Linked DNA regions of Homo sapiens. The protein of the gene in region 1 purifies or fractionates together with the protein of each later gene. This does not show direct contact. Each region holds a gene or a part of one and is shown on either strand. Other genes may lie near its edges.

Region 1 (7,035 bases):
GGTTATGCCAGCTATTGTGGTTAAAGCTGTAGTAACTTACAGTACATTGAAATTATAGACTAAGGTTCTGAATATTGGTAACTCACTGTTGTTGTGCACCTTTAAACAACTCTTAAATAAAGTAATGATTCTCTTTATATTAAATTTAATGTATGTGTGCCTCATGGAAATTTGTATTTTATAGAAAAATATTGAATATTTTATTATTATGTCTTTGGCTCACCTACTTTAAGGAGATGGCTACTTAGGGTACTTTTTAATCCAATATAATGTGAAAATTTGATCATGCTATATTCTTAATTTAATTGTACTTCTATGGTCATATACAATTTACCTATCACTTTCTCACATAATCAATTTAACTTTTTGGTAAATCTTCTAAGAGACCGTCTAGACAGAGTGAAATGAAAGCTGAAACAACAGTCAAATCAAAAACTGCTTTGGTCTCAAATCCATGTTTTTCAGAAAAGATATTCAGATCCAGTTATCTGGCAAATGGTCTCAAACATACATTTCAATTTCAATGTTAAAAATAGGATATTAAACATCTCAGAAAATATTGGGATTATTGAAGCAAATTCTACCCTGGACTTGGAGTAAATGTGATGAACAGATTAATGAGGTGGAAGGGACTAGAACTTTGGGAAAGTGCAACCTTGTTATCTTAATATTTTTATAGCTTAGAAAGAGAATGCTATGCAACTCATATTTTGATCTTTTAATGTTAAAGAATTCAAATAAAAACCATAAACCTGAAACTCTAAAAGAAAAATTCTGTTTTGAGAGAGATGGCCTCCTCTAGTACACTTTTAATAAATTTAAAGTATCTAAAAGGATGCACAAAGATCTCTAATGTGCTGTGATTTTCAAAGGATGTCATGTATAAAAGATTTGAGTGAGAACATGAAAGCAAAAGCAAGTTCAGAAGAGGAACACAACCAGGAGGACAGTGTGTCAGGAAAATCCAAGAATAAGTGGAGGTGTAAAGGCTAAAAAATAATGCAAATGGTGCATATCCTTCTGTCTTTCTCTCATACACACAGACACACTTACACAACACATATACAAATACATACATGTATATATGTATATATATACACAAATATACACACATATTCACATAATATTCAAGTATGTATACATATATACACATATGTACATACACATATGTATATATACATACACACAGATTGAGAGATTAACCATATGTAGATACACACATGCACATATGCAATAATGAAATCATTTCAAAGCATGCCAAAAAGTAATAAAAGATATATCCTCTGTTTGGGATAAATAAAAAAAAAGTTTAAAAGCAAACAAAAAATAAATGGCAATAACTAATCACATTGAATTTTGTTATGGCCTTTTTCTTCCTAAAAAGAATAACCCCAATCTGAACAAAGAAATTCAAAGTAATGGAAAACTCAACAATGAAACTCAAAGTAGACTAGCAGATAAGATACCTATTTCAAACATCAGTGCCAAGGTAATTTATAGGTCAGTGCATTGATAACTTTTGCCAATGATAGAAAAGATGCCAGAGAACCGGATCCTGACATTAAAAAAAAAAAGTAAAAAGATTCTGAAGACTGCATTTCTGAGCTTAAGGTAGATTCTAAACAACATCTTAGAAACTAGGAAATGACTTTATGTTTCTTTGTTTTTCAATGTAAATGGATCAAGATTTCTTAAAACAGAAATGAATATTATTATTTGTGATGAGAGCACTAGGGGCAATTTTGATATTTTTGATAAGGTTTCTAGAGTAATAAATTAGAATGACAGGAATATATATTGATTTTAGGAAAGTGTCTGTATAATTCCACATGATATTCTCTGGACAAAATATGAAAAGGTAGGCTGAATAACATTTTTAAAGGGCAGTAAATTTTATAATTGTTATTGATTACAATGAAGGCCTCTGGTAATGTTTTCCAGGGTCATATCCTGTTACATATACGTGACATGGATAAAAAGGAAACAAATATTTATTGTGTGCCTAGTTTATGTTATCTCAATTCCAGCTCTACAAGGAGCTACAAGGTAAAATTGCTACCTTTAAAAACATATGAGGTAAAATTATTCCTATTCACAGATGTAGAAACTGAGTTTCAAGAAGGTTAAGTAAATTTCCTCATATTGGGAGGCTGGTAATGCAGAACTGGGTGTCAAAATCAAGTCTGTATGAACCTTCTGTTTTGTCTCCCATGAAGACAAAAGGCATGCATATAAAATTTGTTGAAACACAAAGCTGAGGAGGCATAATAAGACGTGGAATGACAGAAGCAAGATCTAGAAAGTTTGGGATCATGAATCAAAAGAAACAGGATAAAATTATCCTAAAATTAATATTAAATCTTACAAGAAACCCCCCAAAATCAGTTGAATTTGTACAAAACGGTAAATCATTTTATCAGTAGATCCCATAATAAATATTATAAAGTTTAAGTGTGAGCTCTATTACTCAGTAATATGATGCCATTACTGTGTTGATGGATGTATTGTCAAGGAAAAAGAAGAGAATTACACACTGTTTCCTTCAATTGTTAGATGGCACTGGATGTAGTGTTTTCAATGTTAATCCTGGTATCATGTTCTTTGCCATAAACTTGTTGACAAATTGGCAAATACTGACATGAAATATGCCAATATTTGAGCATCTAAAAATGTAGGTACTTTCCATACCACATCATATATTACAATTTGAAAATGTTTGTTTCATTTTTTATATAATTATTATACAGAACAGTTTTTCTATGATAGCATTATAAAAATTCCCAGAGAATACTGGCCCAGTAAGAAATGGAATGTTCACAACTCATAGTGTAGCTATATGAAAGAAATAGATCTAAACGACAGGTTGGTTTCCAAATTATATTTTCATACCTGGAAAATATCTACTTTATAAATAGCACAAAGTTATAGTTTTCAATGAATATGAAAAAGTTCTTGCATTAACATATTTTATGTATCTTTTATATTGACATTTGTGATTGCCACTAAAATGTGTATTTTCTAAATTTCATTGTGCTTTTACAAGATACTTTTTTCTTTGATGTCCATAACTGCTGAAAAGGCTCCCCTAAGGAGAATTTTAAGACTAAGTAAGGTTTTTAGTGAGCTTAAATTATACAATTCTGAGGCATTATTTAAGGTGCATACTGTATTTTTTGCTTGAAACCTGTCAGCATTTTATTTGTATGGCAATTAAATGACTCAGCCATTCATGTCTCATGCCAGTCTTTTTCAATTGTTATTTTTAACAAAGAAAATTATATATATATGTATATATATATTATATATATGTATATATGTATTATATATGTATATATATATAAACTTACAGCAAAAATGTTTAAAAATAGCAAATAGTTTGAGTATAGTTAAACCTAATAACTGTACTTTTGTTTCTATGCCTCTGAGACAAGATTACTAGACCCTTATTCAAAGTTTCTAAATATAGGAAATAGAACATTGGGCCATGCTAAAAAAATTGTTCAGATTTTCTTTTGAAAGAGAATAGTTATTTTTCCTCCTGACCTCTAATGAAGATGCTTTATTTGTCAAGGTGTTTTCCTTAGAAAATTGACCCAGTGTCAACTGTAAAGAAAACATAGAGGATCCTTGGATGATTGACCAACTTATCCAAACACAGGTTTAGTAAAGAGAGGATATAAAGATAAAATGTGAAATGACCTCTCTGAGTCACATTTGTTTTCATAATTTCCTAGCAAACATCCAACTTCACTGCTACCCTCAGCAATGTTTCTTGAAACATTTTTAAGACATTGATAGACACCAATAGCTGATCTTTAGAAAGCCATTCCCAGAAGAATATGTAAGGGGTTACAACTCATTTCAGGGAGTCTGCCTAGCTCTTGATATTACATGTCTTTGGCATACAATTGTGTACCTTTTATCATTGACAGTGAAGAAAATAATGCCATTTGTAACTTCTGAGATATACACACAATACTATCAACTAGCCGGTTAATAAAAGATAAGAAAAATAAAGAAAATAGAACATTTTTAGGTGTCTGGCAAGTATCCTCTAAATCAAGGTAAAGATAATAATTTAGTGGCAGTGTTCATATTTTCCTATGACTGTAAGATTTAGGTGCCTCACAAAATATTAATATTTAGCCTCTTATGAAAGGTTCGTTTTTCTTCTAACACTTTAGTAGCTGAATACAAAGAAAATACACAACAGCTGTTTATAAATGAAATAAAAAGTTTCCATTTTTTATCTGAGTTTCTCATTTATTTGCAGAGAACGAATAAAATAAAAATATCCTAGTGTTGTTTGCACCACAGCATACCAGTAAATCTTAAGGATTGTGTTTCAGTATGAAAAGGAAGAGCAGGAAGATTTCCTCATTCTGTCTTACCAGCAAAAGTCTAGCCTTCACACACACACACACACACACACACACACACACACACACACACACACACACACAGAGTCATCTATATGAACACGTACTTGAGTTTCTTAAACATATATGAAGCACCTTCCATTTCCCTTTATAATAAATCCCTTAGTTTTTGCTGTTCATTAAAAAACAAAAAGGAAGAGACAAGCTCAGGACATTCTGAAAACCAATGTCTTTAGGACACACTAAGGTGTCCTGAATTACTTTAACGGACACATTGTAAAGACACACTCTCCAATCCCTATTAGGAAAAGTTTAGTCAAGTTTGCTTACTATTTGGGTGCTTATACCAAAAAAGCATCATTTAGGACATTATTTAGGATAATATTATTTATGCAGGAATTGTACCACCTATTTCCAGATGGTATAACTTATTATCTGACAGGCATGTAGCAAATAGAACACAAAGCATAAATCTGTCAGGAGAAATCATACGAGAAAAAGAGCATTGTCTGGTTATCAGAATATCAGATCTCTCATTCTGGCCTTGCTAGGAAATAGATCTTTGATTCTAGAAAAGTCAACTAATTTCTATGGTTCTTACTTTTCTCCTTTATAATATACCCATTTAAATTCCAAAAAGGTATATGATAAATCACAATAATTTCAATCACATGGATTTTAATACAAAATGTATAAAATCAATTTCCAAAAATTTTCTGCATATACTGAAAATGTCTGTACGAATGAGCTAACTACTATAGGCCTTCCCTAATTTATTCTATTAAATGTGGGTACTCAATGTAACCTGAAAATATTGAGCTTAACTCTTCTTTTTTTTTTTCAAAAGGGAAACTTGAAAAAGACTGCTTCCCCCAGAAAATTTATCAACAATAGGTGCTCAATTAAATGTTTTTAAACAATGAACAATATCCCCTTTCATATAAATAATCAGGGGAGAGATATTTTTAAGTCTTTTTTTTCTTTTTCCATAGTGTCACCTACACAAAAAATTATGTAAAGACACCACTTCTATGAGGAGGTATTCATTGTAGATGTACAGAAGTCAACGGAAACTTAAGTTTACAGAAAAAATAAACCAGATTATCATTCCACCCAACTGTATATTCCCACAGATGCTTAATAAAAGCTATCTGATGATATAATGAATTATCAGTTCTTGAGGAAGTATATACAGTTGGTGACTATTTTTCAAAAATCATCATCCAACAAATTTTTTTCATTTAAAATCTTTCATATTACCCTTTCGACAATCAGTTGAAATTTTAAAACTAAGAACATTTAAAAATATAAATGAAAGTAGCATTAGCTATAGACTGATATTCAACTTCAGACGTTAAAATAAATACAAGTGTGTATTAAGAGTAAAATTATGTCAACAATGTATAAATGAAAACTGCCAATGTAATTAATGTTTCTTTTAACATATCCCATCCATTGCTTTCCCTCCAAAAGACAAAGGTAGCAAAAGACGAAGCAGGAAGAACTGCTTCAGAAACTGAACATACTGATTTAATTGGCTAAGAAGTCCAAATGCTAATACTCCTAATAATTAGCCATTCCTTTTGTGTTTTGGTGACATATATCCTCATACAATGTATATCAAATGGAATTTTTTGATTTACACCTGACATTTCAAAGTTTCCATTTTTGAATTCTCCTAGTCTTAAGTAAGTAGAACATTGTCTCCTTTGTTTGCTAGGCATAACGTTTTCCCCAACATCTAGGGCTCCATGATGCAAAATATCATTTTGCCGATCTTCTGTTCCAGTATTTACTTTAATTTTTTTTATTATAATTGGATTTTCAAATACAATCACAAAAACATCTCCTGTTGAAGGTGGTTTCCCCCAAAAGTACTCATCAACACTACTGTAAGCCTTGCTTGCTTCATAATTTTCAAACACATTCATGTTGGTGTACAGACTTGCAGGGGGGTTATCAGGAATGTCAAATGACTCCTCTTCAAAATCATCATCCTTCAGCTTATTCTCCGTCCCTTTGTATGATGAATAATAGCCCATGTGCTGAAAGAGAGATGGTTTAAAACGGATCACATTTTTCTGAGCCAACAGACCACGGAAATGAGTCAATAGCCAATCACAAGGCATTTCTTGATAAAACATTAATAAAAAATGGGCCAAACGTGGGAGATCATGAGAATGATAGAGTTTACCAATGTAGCCAAGCTTAGAGAATTCAAGAGTTACCCAGTAAGTTCCTTCTAGGGATGCAATGACTTTCTTGATGGCAGTTAAGAAATTTTTTGAACATCGAACATCATCTTCAAGCATTACATAATAGTCTGAAGTATTGGCACAAAAATTAAGCAGAAAAGCATAATCTACATTTTGCTTGGAACGAAATTTGACTCTATCTTCTGGATCATTGTAATTTCTTTTAAGGCCATCTAGGATTGGGTAATACTCCTCTGGAGCATGTATAACCATTAATCTTCCTGCAATAATATGGTGCGCAAATTTCTGTGTAATATCCTGGACCATGGCATCACGCCAGGAAGAATTAAAGTCTGCTAGGTGAACCACCACTGAAATTTCCTTCAGCTCTTCATAGCTGGATTGCTCAAAAATTGACTTAATTGTCTCAAGTAAATAGTTTCCTTTTTTTCGCTTTACTG
Region 2 (4,167 bases), on another chromosome or scaffold:
TCCAGTCCATCTTGCACACAGCTGCCAGAGTGAAAATAAAAATCAGATTCAGTCACAACTTAAACTCTTCAGCGTCCCCCATGCTTTCAGGGACATGAGGACCCAGCTCCTGTTGTCTGCCAGGGAGTCACCCAGTTTGATGCCAGCTCAGTGCCAGCTCAGATGCCAGCTCCTCTGGACCCAGGCGCAACCCCTGCAACAGGGCAGGTTCTGGGCCTCTCCCCCACTTCAGGAGCCACACCTCCCTTTCTCCCACCCACCCTGTGCAAACCCTCACATTCCCTTTGACCCTGGTGTGAGCGGCCAAGCTCTTACCTCAGCTGGGTGGAGAATCGCTCCCTCTGCTCTGGTGTCTGTCCCTGGGCTCTATTTCACAGTCGAGTTGCGTGTGTGTGTTGGCTACAGGCAGCCCTGTGTCCTTCTTTGGGTGTGGGGAGGGCGTGCATGACAGTCACACCCAGAGGCTTTCCTCTCTGATCTGCAAACAGATGCCGTTGGCAACCACAGGTCATTCAGCGACAAGAATGGCCTCACCAGCAAGCGGGAGCTGCGGCCCGAAGATGACATGAAACCAGGTGAGAGGACTCCTATCCCGGGCCCCGGGGCACCTCACTTCCACCAGCTCCCAGGTGCATGCAGGGGACAGCTGTGGGTGTCGGGGCTGTCCACAGCTGCAGCCCAAGCCTGGCCATGACTTGACTAAGACGATGTGGCCTCGCCACACCTGTCAGCAGCTGCAAACAGAACGTGCAAACCCGAGACAGCAAGGGGTCCTTCTAGGCTGGGAGGCTGCCCAGGCACCAGGGCCTCCAGAAGAGCGGGACTGGGCACGATGGCTCCTGCCTGTAATCCCAGCACTCTGGGAGGCTGATGCGGGTGGATCACCTGAGGTCTGGAGTTCAAGACCAGCCTGGCCAACATGGCAAAACCCTGTCTCTACCAAAAATATAAAAATTAGCCAGGCGTGGTGGTGGGTGCCTGTCATCCCAGCTACTTGGGAGGCAGAGGCTCGAGAATCACTTGAACCTGGGAGGCGGAGGTTGCAGTGAGCCAAGATCATGACACTGCATTCCAGCCTAGGCAACAGAGTGAGACTCCATCTCAATTAAAAAGAAGAAGAAGAAGAAAAGCGAGGCCTCGAACTGGATATCTCCCCAACTCCCTCACATTGAACAAGGGCCTTGGAAAGCACAGCAGGGCCTCAGGCTGCTGGGATCAGATCATTGACCTTGCAGCGCCCAGCTCCTCTGTAGGGAGGGGGATGACCTGAGACACTGAAGCACCCTCTGCACAAGTCGTGAATGTTGATCTTTTCTCTTCTAGGAAGCTTTGACAGGTCCATACCTGAAAACAATATCATGCGCACAATCATTGAGTTTCTGTCTTTCTTGCATCTCAAAGGTATGTGAAATATCATCAACTTAACATTCATCTCTTAGTACACTGGAAACGTAAAAGGCCCATCGAGAAGAGAACCCATAGAATCCCCCTGGGAAGTAGCCGATTACTTATCTACGTACAAAGTCCTGTTTGGCTGTGTGTCGGGATAACAGAGAATGTAACACTAGAGCTAGCTCCAGAGGGCTGGGATTGCGGCAGGGGCATTCTACCGTCGTGGAGGGCCATCGGGCCAGCGCTGGTCCCAGGAAGAGAGTGGGCCTCAGGGTGCAGCTCATTCTACTGGAACCATATCTATTCACACGGTGACAACTGCTGTACCTTTTAGGGCAGAGGTATACTACAGGCCAAGTTCTTTGTGAACCGTCCTAAACCTTTTCTCTTTTCTTTTTTCTCTGTCTTTTCTTTCTCTTCTCTCTTTTCTTTCTTTCTTCTTTCTCTTCCTTCCTTCCTTTTTCTTCCTCCCTCTTTCTCTCTCTCTTTCTTCCTTCCTTCCTTCATCTCACTCTGTCGCCCAGGCTCGAATGTAGTGGTGCAATCTCAGCTCACTGCAGCCTCTGCCTCCTGGGCTCAAGTGATTCTCGTGCCTCTTCTTCCCAGGTAGCTGGGAAAACAGGTGCGCACAATTATGCCTGGCTAATTTTTGTATTTTTAGTAGAGGCTGGGGTTCATCATGTTGGCCAGGCTCATCTTGAACTCCTGGCCTCAAGTGACCTGTCTGCCTCAGTCTCCCAAAGTGCTGGGATTACAGGCGTGAGCCACTGTGCCTGGCCCTAAACCATATTTTCTAAGCATGGGAAATTAATAGAAGCCCATATCTTAGACTGCAGTGTTTCTCTATGCAGCCTTCCTGCCAGGCAGGCTGCCTTGAAATCTAACTGGAAAGGCTCTGATCCTGGCTTCCAGTGTCTTCTGCAAACACTGGGGATGAGGAGACCTCCGCACACTACGCTTGGCATTCATTCTACGATGGGCATCTGGCCTTGATCAGATAACCACACAGGTCCTACTGCAGCAGTGGAGGGAGCCGGAAAGCGGCCCCGGTGCTCTGAGGGTTAACAGGGAGGTGGTGGTGGGGAGGAGGGATGGACCGCTTTGCCTCTCCAGCAGAGAAGACCTTCACCTGGTGCTCTGAGAGTTAAGGGGGAGGCAGTGGTGGGGAGGAGGGATAGACCGCTTTGCCTCTCCAGCAGAGAAGACCTTCACCTGGTGCTCTGAGAGTTAAGGGGGAGGTGGTGGAGGGGAGGAGGGATGGACCACTTAGCCTCTCCAGTGGAGAAGACCTTCACCTGCTGCTCTGAGAGTTAACAGGGAGCTGGTGGTGGGGAGGAGGGATGGACCGTTAGCCTCTCCAGTGGAGACCTTCAGTTGCACATCACAGTTTTGTCCAGTTTTGAAAAATCAAGGCTAATCCTTGGGTTCATTTTGGATCAGGATGTTTTTCATTTGCAGTGTTATCGGGCTGCACTTTAGGTGGCGATGGGGAGAGGGAAGAGGAGTGAGGGGAGGGGAGCGGGGGAAGGAGACTGCCAGAGAAGGTCTTGGAAAAGGCGGTGTTCATTAGAAATCTCAAAACCGAGTCACCAAGTTCCCTCTGTTGGAGCCCAGTGGAGCCTCTGGGAGAAAAGCTGGGGTGACTTTTCCTACAAGGGGCAGAGGGACTCTGCTAGATTTTTGTTTTTCATTTGTTTTTAATTTTGTAACATGGAAACTCTTTCCTTAGGATATACCAGCTCTCATTACTCAGCTAGGAATTATACCTCTTTAAAGCCTGAATTTAAAAGTCTGACAGTTTTAAATGCTTACTAACTGTGGGAGTTAAATCATTACGAAGTGAGGAATACAGAGTGTTGTCCCTGATTCTGGGTTTAATCTGGTAAGAATCTTTACAGAGGACGACCACACGCCGCTTCCTGTAGCATGTGTCGTGGTTGTAATTCTCTCATGTGCATATTAAGAAGTTGCTGCTCAGATGTGGCTCTTCCCTTTGCAGAGGCCGGTGCCCTCGACCGCCTCCTGGATCTCCCCGCCGCAGCCTCCTCAGAAGACATCGAGCGGTCCTGAGAGCCTCCTGGGCATGTTTGTCTGTGTGCTGTAACCTGAAGTCAAACCTTAAGATAATGGATAATCTTCGGCCAATTTATGCAGAGTCAGCCATTCCTGTTCTCTTTGCCTTGATGTTGTGTTGTTATCATTTAAGATTTTTTTTTTTTGGTAATTATTTTGAGTGGCAAAATAAAGAATAGCAATTACTTGCAATTGTCTTTTTCTTCCACACCTCTGTCTCATCACCAGCGCCACCCATGGGTTTTAAAAGATAAAGCTTGATCATAATCGTGGATTAGACATGAATTTTAAACCCAAATTCTACCGTCAAGAGCATCTGAGACACCACCTGTTATTGCATGTCCAGGGGACATAAATTTATCTCCATATTAAGCTGAGTCAAATGTAATTATGAAGGTAAGTCTGTTACTGAGATGAACAAAAACACAAAACAGACAAAACCCCTGCCCTCGTGGAGCTGATATTTTAGGGAGATGGGAATGAAAAAGACTACAACAACCTTAAACAGATGGGTGAGTTGCGTGGTACTCATGGAGGTGGTCAGTGCTGAGAACAGACGTGTTGGCCAGGTGGGAGGGCCAGGAGCAAGGCAGGAGAGGAGAGATGGGCGGGCAGGTAGAAAGGCAAGGGCAGGAGGTGTGTGCAGGGATGGTGCTGTGTGAAGGAAGGCCTGTGGGAATATCTCTTAACGTGACAGAGACT
Region 3 (7,035 bases), on another chromosome or scaffold:
CCACCAACAGAGTCACCACAAGGGACATGGGCTCCCCAACATCCAAGGCACACGGTTGGGGGGTGCCCTCAGCTGGAGAGTGTGACTGAGCTAACCTGCCGAGCCCCTGGCCGTGGCTCGCCAAGGACTGGCTCCTAGCCTGCCTGCCGCTGGGGGCCTTTTAGGGGTGTGGGAGCCAGCCCTCTTTTCCCTCGCCAGGCTCGCTGCCAAGGTCTACGGGGCAAAGCCCTACTCTCTGAGACCCTGGTGCTATGCCAGCCACATGCTCCCCTCCCAAACCGCCATAGCAGACTTCATCAGGCACCCGCACCTCCCAGCACACGGCCCCTGCCCAGCGAGGCTTCGCATCCAGAGCCACCCAGGAGACCAGGCCAGTGGAGCCGCAGGCGGGACCCCCAACAGAGGCAGGGCCCAAGGGGCAGCCACCGGGGAGGTGCCAGAAGCCCAGGCTGACAAGTGGTTTGCTGGGATGAGGCCTGGCATCCCACGGAGGCCCTGGGGCCAGAGCCTCCTCCTGCCCTCTGGAGGTACTTTATGGAGCAGAGCCGTGCTGGCCATTCCCCTGCCCCAACCCCAGGGCTCAGGGCTCCACTGTGCTTGCCTGGTCTTGGTTCTGCCTCCCAGCACCTGCTCCCCACTTGGCTGAGCCCAGAGCCCTGCAGGCCTGGACCCTCCCCCAGGCCACACAGGCTGCCCCATACCATCCATCAGCACCCAAGGAGCCTCAAAGGCAGAAGATAGCAGCTGCCTCTGAGTTCCTGTGACCCCCCGGAGCCAGTGGTCCTACCTCCATCTCCTTGAGCACAGGGTGGTCCTCGATCCCAGGAAAGAGCACCCGCATGGCATATGTCCGGTAGTCAAGGAAGGGGATGCCGGCACCGTCCAGGTCATTGGTCAGCTCGTGGATGTCTGTCTGCAGCTCTGCAAAGGCTGTGGCCAGATGCGGCGTCAGGGGCAGCATGCCCTGGTGGCCCCGCTCCATGCCCCAACCCTCCCACTCTTGGGGCCTACATCAAATCCTGGCTCTGACACTTACTGGTTTCGTGATCTTAAGGAAACTACTGTGCCTCTTCGTCCCCCAGCTACTACAGCCCTAGCACAGGGATAGTAACTCTCCTCTGCAAGGTTCCCACAGGATCAAGCAAGACAAGGGCAGAGAAAGCATCAGCACCAGGGGCAGGCTGGGCAGGGCCTCCTGCATCTCAGACACTGGCAGTTAAGCGTAGAGCAGCTTTGGAGTTCGGGCTCCTTCCACCCGCTGTGAGGTGGTGGAGTGCGGCCAGGGGTGAGGTCCCAGGGCTGCAGGCTGTCCCCAAGCCCCCACACCATTGCATGCACATCTCGGGCCTGGTGCACCCTCAACATGGCCCACCCTGCTCAGGGCCAGCTCTGCCTCTGTCAGGAACAAAGGCAGGCAGGCCCTGACAGAACATTCCAGAGCTGTGAGGTGTCAGTCCTGTGGCAGCCCGAGGATCAGGCTATCTGATCAGAAGCCAAAGGAGTGCCAGGCAGGCTCTGGGGGACATCTGACAGGTTTAATTAAGAGCTGGAGTCTTCGTCTCCTGGGCATCGCTGCCAGGCGTCTAGTTATCTGCACCTGGCTGGCCTGGAGCAGCCACCAGCCACTGCATCCACACACGCCAGCCTCGCCAGACAGCCAGCCTCAGCAGGCGGGAGCACAAGGGAGGTCCAGGCCACCTGCCTCCCACCTGGCCCCAACACACACCTGCCTCCAGTCCCACCAGGGCTGCCCAAGAGGTAGGGTGACCCTCAGCCCACCACAGGGCCACTTAGGTTTGTCTGGGACTGAGAGGGCTCCCAGGATGCAGAACTTTGCATTTTAAGACTGGCTGAGTCCTGTGCAAACAAAACACCCCATCCCAGTTGAGTCCCAGTGGAATTCATGACAACCCCATGCTGGACCACATGGCTAAGGTCCTACACTGCAGCAGGAACACTCCTAGTATCTGCCCCCTAGAGCCCTGAACATGTGTGAGTTACTATCTGCAAACGCTCAAAGTCTCGCCCGGCATGGAACAGATTTCTGCCACTCACACCTGCCCTGATCAGGAGCATGGTGTGGCATGACTCCCCCTATAGACATCTCAAGGACAAAGGTCAGCTCAGGCCAAGATCTCTATGTGCCCAGGGACTGCCAAAGCGCAAGGGCTCCCCATTGCTGCATGGTGGAAGCACCCCTCTCTGCTGCTCCGCTGGCACCAGCCAACCCACCACGACTCCCAGCACCCAGGGAAAGTAGGCACTGTCATTGTGCCCACTCTAGAGACGACAAGACTGAGCCACAGAAGGGTAAGTAGCCACCTTCAGCCTTATAGCCCAGCTGGGATACAAATGCAAACAGTCTGGCTTTGGGTTCTGTGTCGCAAGCAGCACCCCAAGGAGGTGGTACCTGCTGCAGGGCCAGGCCCTGGTCAGGCACCCGCCCACTGCCCTGGGACCAGCTCTGGCACAGCAAGGCTATCAGGAACATTGTAAACTGAGCTGAAGCAGGGTGGGGGCGGCGGTGGGAAGTAGGTGTGGGGACAGGCCAGGGCCTGGCTCGGAGGTGGCAGTTGCCCCAGTGAGCCCTGGCCCCAACAGACCTTCCTTGCATTCGAGGGCCACGCGGGACTCCAGGTTGTCCATCTGGAGCTGCAGCCGCTTGAGTGTGCGGTCAGCATCTCGTGACTTGCGCTTGTAGGCGATGAGCACAGCCACGATGACCAGCAGCAGGAGACCCCCGCCTCCGCCAATGCCCACAATGGCAGGCAGCGTCAGCAGGCTGTCCGAGTACACCTGCAGTGTCCCTGGCGAGAACTCGAAGCCACCTGCCCGCACCTGCCAGTGGGTGGAGGCCACTCAGGAGCTTCCCATGCTTTCCACAAAGCTTGGGAGCCCCTCCCGATGGGCAAGACCCACCCCCAACACCTGCCTGTGGGAAAGGTCCCACCGACAGGGGCACAGAGTGGTCACCAGGGTGGAGACACTGGGACCCAGGGCAGGCGCCTGGCCAGCCAGGGCACCACTGGCATGGCAAGGGCTCAGGGTGGGTAGGCAGTCTCGGGGGGCTCAAGGAGGTGGCAGGCTGAAGGCTACGGCAGGGCCTGCACTGGAGCCGGGCGCCCTCTGAGCTAGGGGTGAGTCTCGGGCAAGGTCAGAGCTGGGGCTGTGCTAGTGGGGCAGGGTCCACAGGTGGGGCATGGCTCTCCCAGCTCTGCACCCCCGGTGGACAGACGCACCGTGACCTTGTGCTGCCCAGTGAGGTTGGGCGCCTCGCACAGCAGTTGCGTCTCCGACACGGTGAGGGTACAGGGTGTGGAGCCGATGAGCACCGTGTAGTTGAGTCGGGAGTTGCCGGGTGCAGGTGGCAAGAGGTTCCGGCCCTGTAGGAGATGGGGGTGAGCCAGAGCCCAGGACGAGGGGCCTCTTCCCTGGCTTGGCCCAGCCTACGGGCAATGGTGACCCACCTTGAGGATGAGTGGGGAGCTGGGCTTCAGCTCCAGCAGGCCAGTGGGGCTGAGTGGCTCCAGTACGGGGTCAGGGTAGTAGAGGAAGGAGGTGGAGTTGAGCACAAGCAGGGAGCGCACGTTGTCCATGACGAAGCCCAGCTCATCCGGCCGCTCCCCCAGCTCTGGTGGGCTGCGCACAGGGTTGGCCACAGACGGGGCGCGGCATACCATGGTGGTGTCATTGTACACCAGGCAGCCCTGGAGACACAGGGTGGGGATGCTGGGCGGGACCTCCGCGAGTGGCCCGGCAGCTCCCAGTGACAGAGCCCCTGGCCTGGGGGCTGCCTGCTCCCTGCACAGATGATGCCAGGCACTAGCAGGGCTGGTCCTGGGCCACCCACCCGACGTGGACCAGGGACATGTGGCCTGAAGGAGAGGTGTGTGCAGCCAGCAACCCAGAGCCAGACCTTCTACCCGCCAGGCAGGACAGGTGCCTCCCCAGGGGTCTCCAGGCACAGCCAAGGTTGGCATAAGCTGGGAAGGGGCAGGGGTAGGGGCAGGGGCAGGGACACGGGTATTCCTAGCAGGAGCCCCATCCCAGGTGAAGGCCTGGACCGAGGTGGGCAGCTGAGGGCAGGGACTCACGTTCTCCCTCTCAATGCCTCCATACTTGGCCCGGATTCGGGGTTCACGGACAGTGGCCAGGTTGGTGCCTGTGACCGTCAGGAGGGTCCCACCGCTGGAACAGGACAGGGGTGGGGGGGTCACCAAATGATGCTGGGGCCCAGTGAGCTGGAAACGTGGGCCACAGCTCAGCCAGGCAAAGCCTGCCTTCCCCAAAGACAGGAAACAGGTAAAAGCTCTTGGCAAGGGGTGCTTCCCGGCAGGATAGTACCCGGCATGCAGGAGGGCCACCGCCAAGTGCCCAGTGGAAGAGCTCCTGGCTCAGCGCTGCTCTCAATAGCTGGGGATAGGGAATGGGTGTTGCTGGGCCCCACCTGTTGATGCTCCACTCGGGGTCGATCCTCAGGATGGTGGGGTCCTCGGTGTAGTTGTACTTCACCTCAGGGTTGGTGAGCTGGGCGCGGTTGATGTTGATGATGATGGGAGCGCTGCCAGGGCTCTGCCCGGGGGGTGTCAGGCACCGGATCTCACGGGAGTTCCTCCTGGAGGTGCCCGAGTGGGACAGTGAGGAGCACACGGGTGGAACCCAGGCAGGTGGAATGCAGATGCATTGAGGGACGGTGGGAACAGCGCCATCTGTCACAGGTACTGCCTTGGGTGGCTGCATACTATCACCGCTACTTTCCCTCCCAGGGCTGTGCATGTCTGTCCTACCCTCGCCCTGGCTCCCAGCCCCTTCAGGCCCCCACTGTTGCCCAGCCTGGCATTTGGGACCCGGCCTGCCGCCTCTCCAGGTCTGCTTTCATCACAGCCTCCCTGTCGCCCACACCCACTCCTGGTGACCCTGGCCAGGGCTCCACACCCACCAGGCCTCTGCCTCCCCAGAGGCAGTAGGCAGCAGGCCCGTCCCACGCACGCCAGGCTGGGAGGTAGGCTCATGCTGCCCTCCCTCTGTCCCTGGGGAGGGCTGGCGAGACTAAGCCCTGGCGCGACCTTCCCTGCCTGTCTCAGGGCCAGCCTCACTCAGCCGGGGCTCCGAGTGCTGGGAGCCCAGCACCCACTCCTACTACCCTGGGCCAGGCAGACACCTTCCCTCTCGGCACCTGTCCCAGTGGGAATACCTCGCCCTATCCCCGCATCCCAGGGGGCTGTGAGGAGACTAGATGAGCTGGCCTGGGTGGGGGTCACGGGGACACCCCACTGGGCAGGCAGCCAGGCATAGCCCACACCTGGGTCCGGACCCTCAGTTCTTCCACCACTGCCAGGAGCCCCACAGCCACCAGGCCCCCTCAGCTGCAGACACCAATGATTAGTCTGATAACGGGTAATTACCATAGGAAAATATTTAAAGGGACATTCCATTATCATCCCTAATCTAAAATTATCCACTTCAAGCCTCAGGGCTTTTGTTAAGATTTCTGTTTTCTCTCTTAAAAATTTTTAAAAAATACTTCTTATTTTGTACCCAAGGGATTCCCCCCTTCCCCACAGGGAAGAACCAGGGCAGAGGCAGCCAAGTTGCCCCGCCCCACAAAGGCAGGCCCCACGCCCATCACCGCCCAGTCCTACCACTCTGGAGGTAGCCTGTTTCCATGGTAACCTCCGCCTCTGGGTTTCACAGTGATCACCCCAGCCAGGCTCTCCATAGCCCCGTTGCCCAGGCAACAAGAAGGGGCATGCAACCATCTGAAACAGGAGGAGGGGCAGCCAGGCCCCCACCCCCACCTGCACCCCGTACCAGGAGAAGGAGCAGGGCCGGCCACCGACCGACACAGCCACATCACTGCCTGCGTTCAGGTGGCTTCCCTCGATGCCAATCCAGGTGCCCCCTGACAGAGGCCCACGGGAGGGGCTCACACGGTAGAAGGTTGGTGTCTGCAGGAAGAGGGAACTTGCTGAAACTCTCAGGAAAGTCCCCCTCGGGCCACATGGGGACAGGCCCCACTTGGCCTGCTTACCCCCACAGACAGTTCCCCAGACTAGGAGCCCGCATGCCCGGGAGCTGCACTTCAGAGCCAGTACTTCCAGGTTTCTCAGGCACAGCCCAAGGTGAGCCAGGGAGCCCTGGAGCTGGCCTAGGCACAGGAGGGGAGGGGCAGCACCCAGGCCGTGGAAAAGCAGTGGCAGAGCATGGCCAGACAAGGGGCCCTGAAGAGGCACAGAAGCCCTGAGCGGCACCCTCTCAGAGCAGCAGAGAATAGGGAGAGAGGGAGGGCAGCAGACTCACCACGAAGGTGAAGCGCTTGGGTGACAGGGCGCGGTAGTGTGGTGAGCAGTCCCGCACACACACCTCCACCAGGGCGTCATGGGCACGCACGGAGCTGGCGTCCCCGATCTCACAGACGATCCTGTGGGCAGGCGGGCCTCAGGGGCTGCAGGAGCCCCGCCCCGTCCCGTCCCGCCCCGCACACACCCAGGGCTGCACTCACTGCTCCGCACTGATGTACTCGCTCTCCACAGGGCTGCACAGCACCTTGCCCACGCGCACGCCCAGACGCACGTCTTCGAATCGCAGGCCCAGGTTCTCGCCTGTGATAGTGAGCCGCGTGCCGCCCTGCCTCGGGCCCGTCTCGGGGGACAGCTGAGGGAGGCAGAGGCTGGGGTACAGGCATCCCACAGGGCGTAGGGTGTGCGGTGGTGCAGGGCGGGGCATGGGGTGTGGGGGCAGGGCTGGGGGCCCTACCTTGAGGATCTTGGGGTCGGTGCAGCGACTGCTGCCGTGACGCGCGTGCATCCACGATGCAGGTGTGTCGGCAGCGCAGTGGTGTCGCAGGGAGCAGCGGCGCTCGGCCACGCACCATCCGCACTCGAAGCGCGGGTCGGCCTTGAGGCAGAGGCCGCAGCTCTCGCGCAGGGCCGGGCACTTGTAGAGGTGCGCTGTGGGGAGGGGTGCGGTCAGCTCGGGCCCGCCCACTGCCCACCCCGCCGGGGCGCCCACTCACCCTGGATGTTCTGTGGGTTG

Evidence for each region.
Region 2: the proteins of MGAT4C (region 1) and GAL purify together in Homo sapiens (affinity purification with mass spectrometry; 2 studies listed by BioGRID and IntAct, with this or other methods). This does not show direct contact.
Region 3: the proteins of MGAT4C (region 1) and PLXNA1 purify together in Homo sapiens (affinity purification with mass spectrometry; 2 studies listed by BioGRID and IntAct, with this or other methods). This does not show direct contact.

Annotation. Positions count from the first base shown.
Region 1 is NC_000012.12:85,973,372-85,980,406, forward strand, and holds part of MGAT4C (alpha-1,3-mannosyl-glycoprotein 4-beta-N-acetylglucosaminyltransferase C), read right to left. Parts: coding exon 5,918-7,035; 3' UTR 1-5,917.
Region 2 is NC_000011.10:68,687,526-68,691,692, forward strand, and holds the end of GAL (galanin peptides preproprotein), read left to right. Parts: intron 1-315; exon of another isoform or gene 316-478; intron 479-488; coding exon 489-575; intron 576-1,266; exon of another isoform or gene 1,267-1,323; coding exon 1,324-1,401; intron 1,402-3,391; coding exon 3,392-3,462; 3' UTR 3,463-3,650; downstream 3,651-4,167. UniProt on the Homo sapiens protein: Endocrine hormone of the central and peripheral nervous systems that binds and activates the G protein-coupled receptors GALR1, GALR2, and GALR3.
Region 3 is NC_000003.12:127,014,097-127,021,131, reverse strand, and holds part of PLXNA1 (plexin-A1 precursor), read right to left. Parts: coding exon 7,016-7,035; intron 6,951-7,015; coding exon 6,757-6,950; intron 6,655-6,756; coding exon 6,503-6,654; intron 6,422-6,502; coding exon 6,301-6,421; intron 5,949-6,300; coding exon 5,812-5,948; intron 4,616-5,811; coding exon 4,448-4,615; intron 4,189-4,447; coding exon 4,095-4,188; intron 3,708-4,094; coding exon 3,468-3,707; intron 3,384-3,467; coding exon 3,240-3,383; intron 2,839-3,239; coding exon 2,604-2,838; intron 931-2,603; coding exon 788-930; intron 1-787. UniProt on the Homo sapiens protein: Coreceptor for SEMA3A, SEMA3C, SEMA3F and SEMA6D. Necessary for signaling by class 3 semaphorins and subsequent remodeling of the cytoskeleton. Plays a role in axon guidance, invasive growth and cell migration.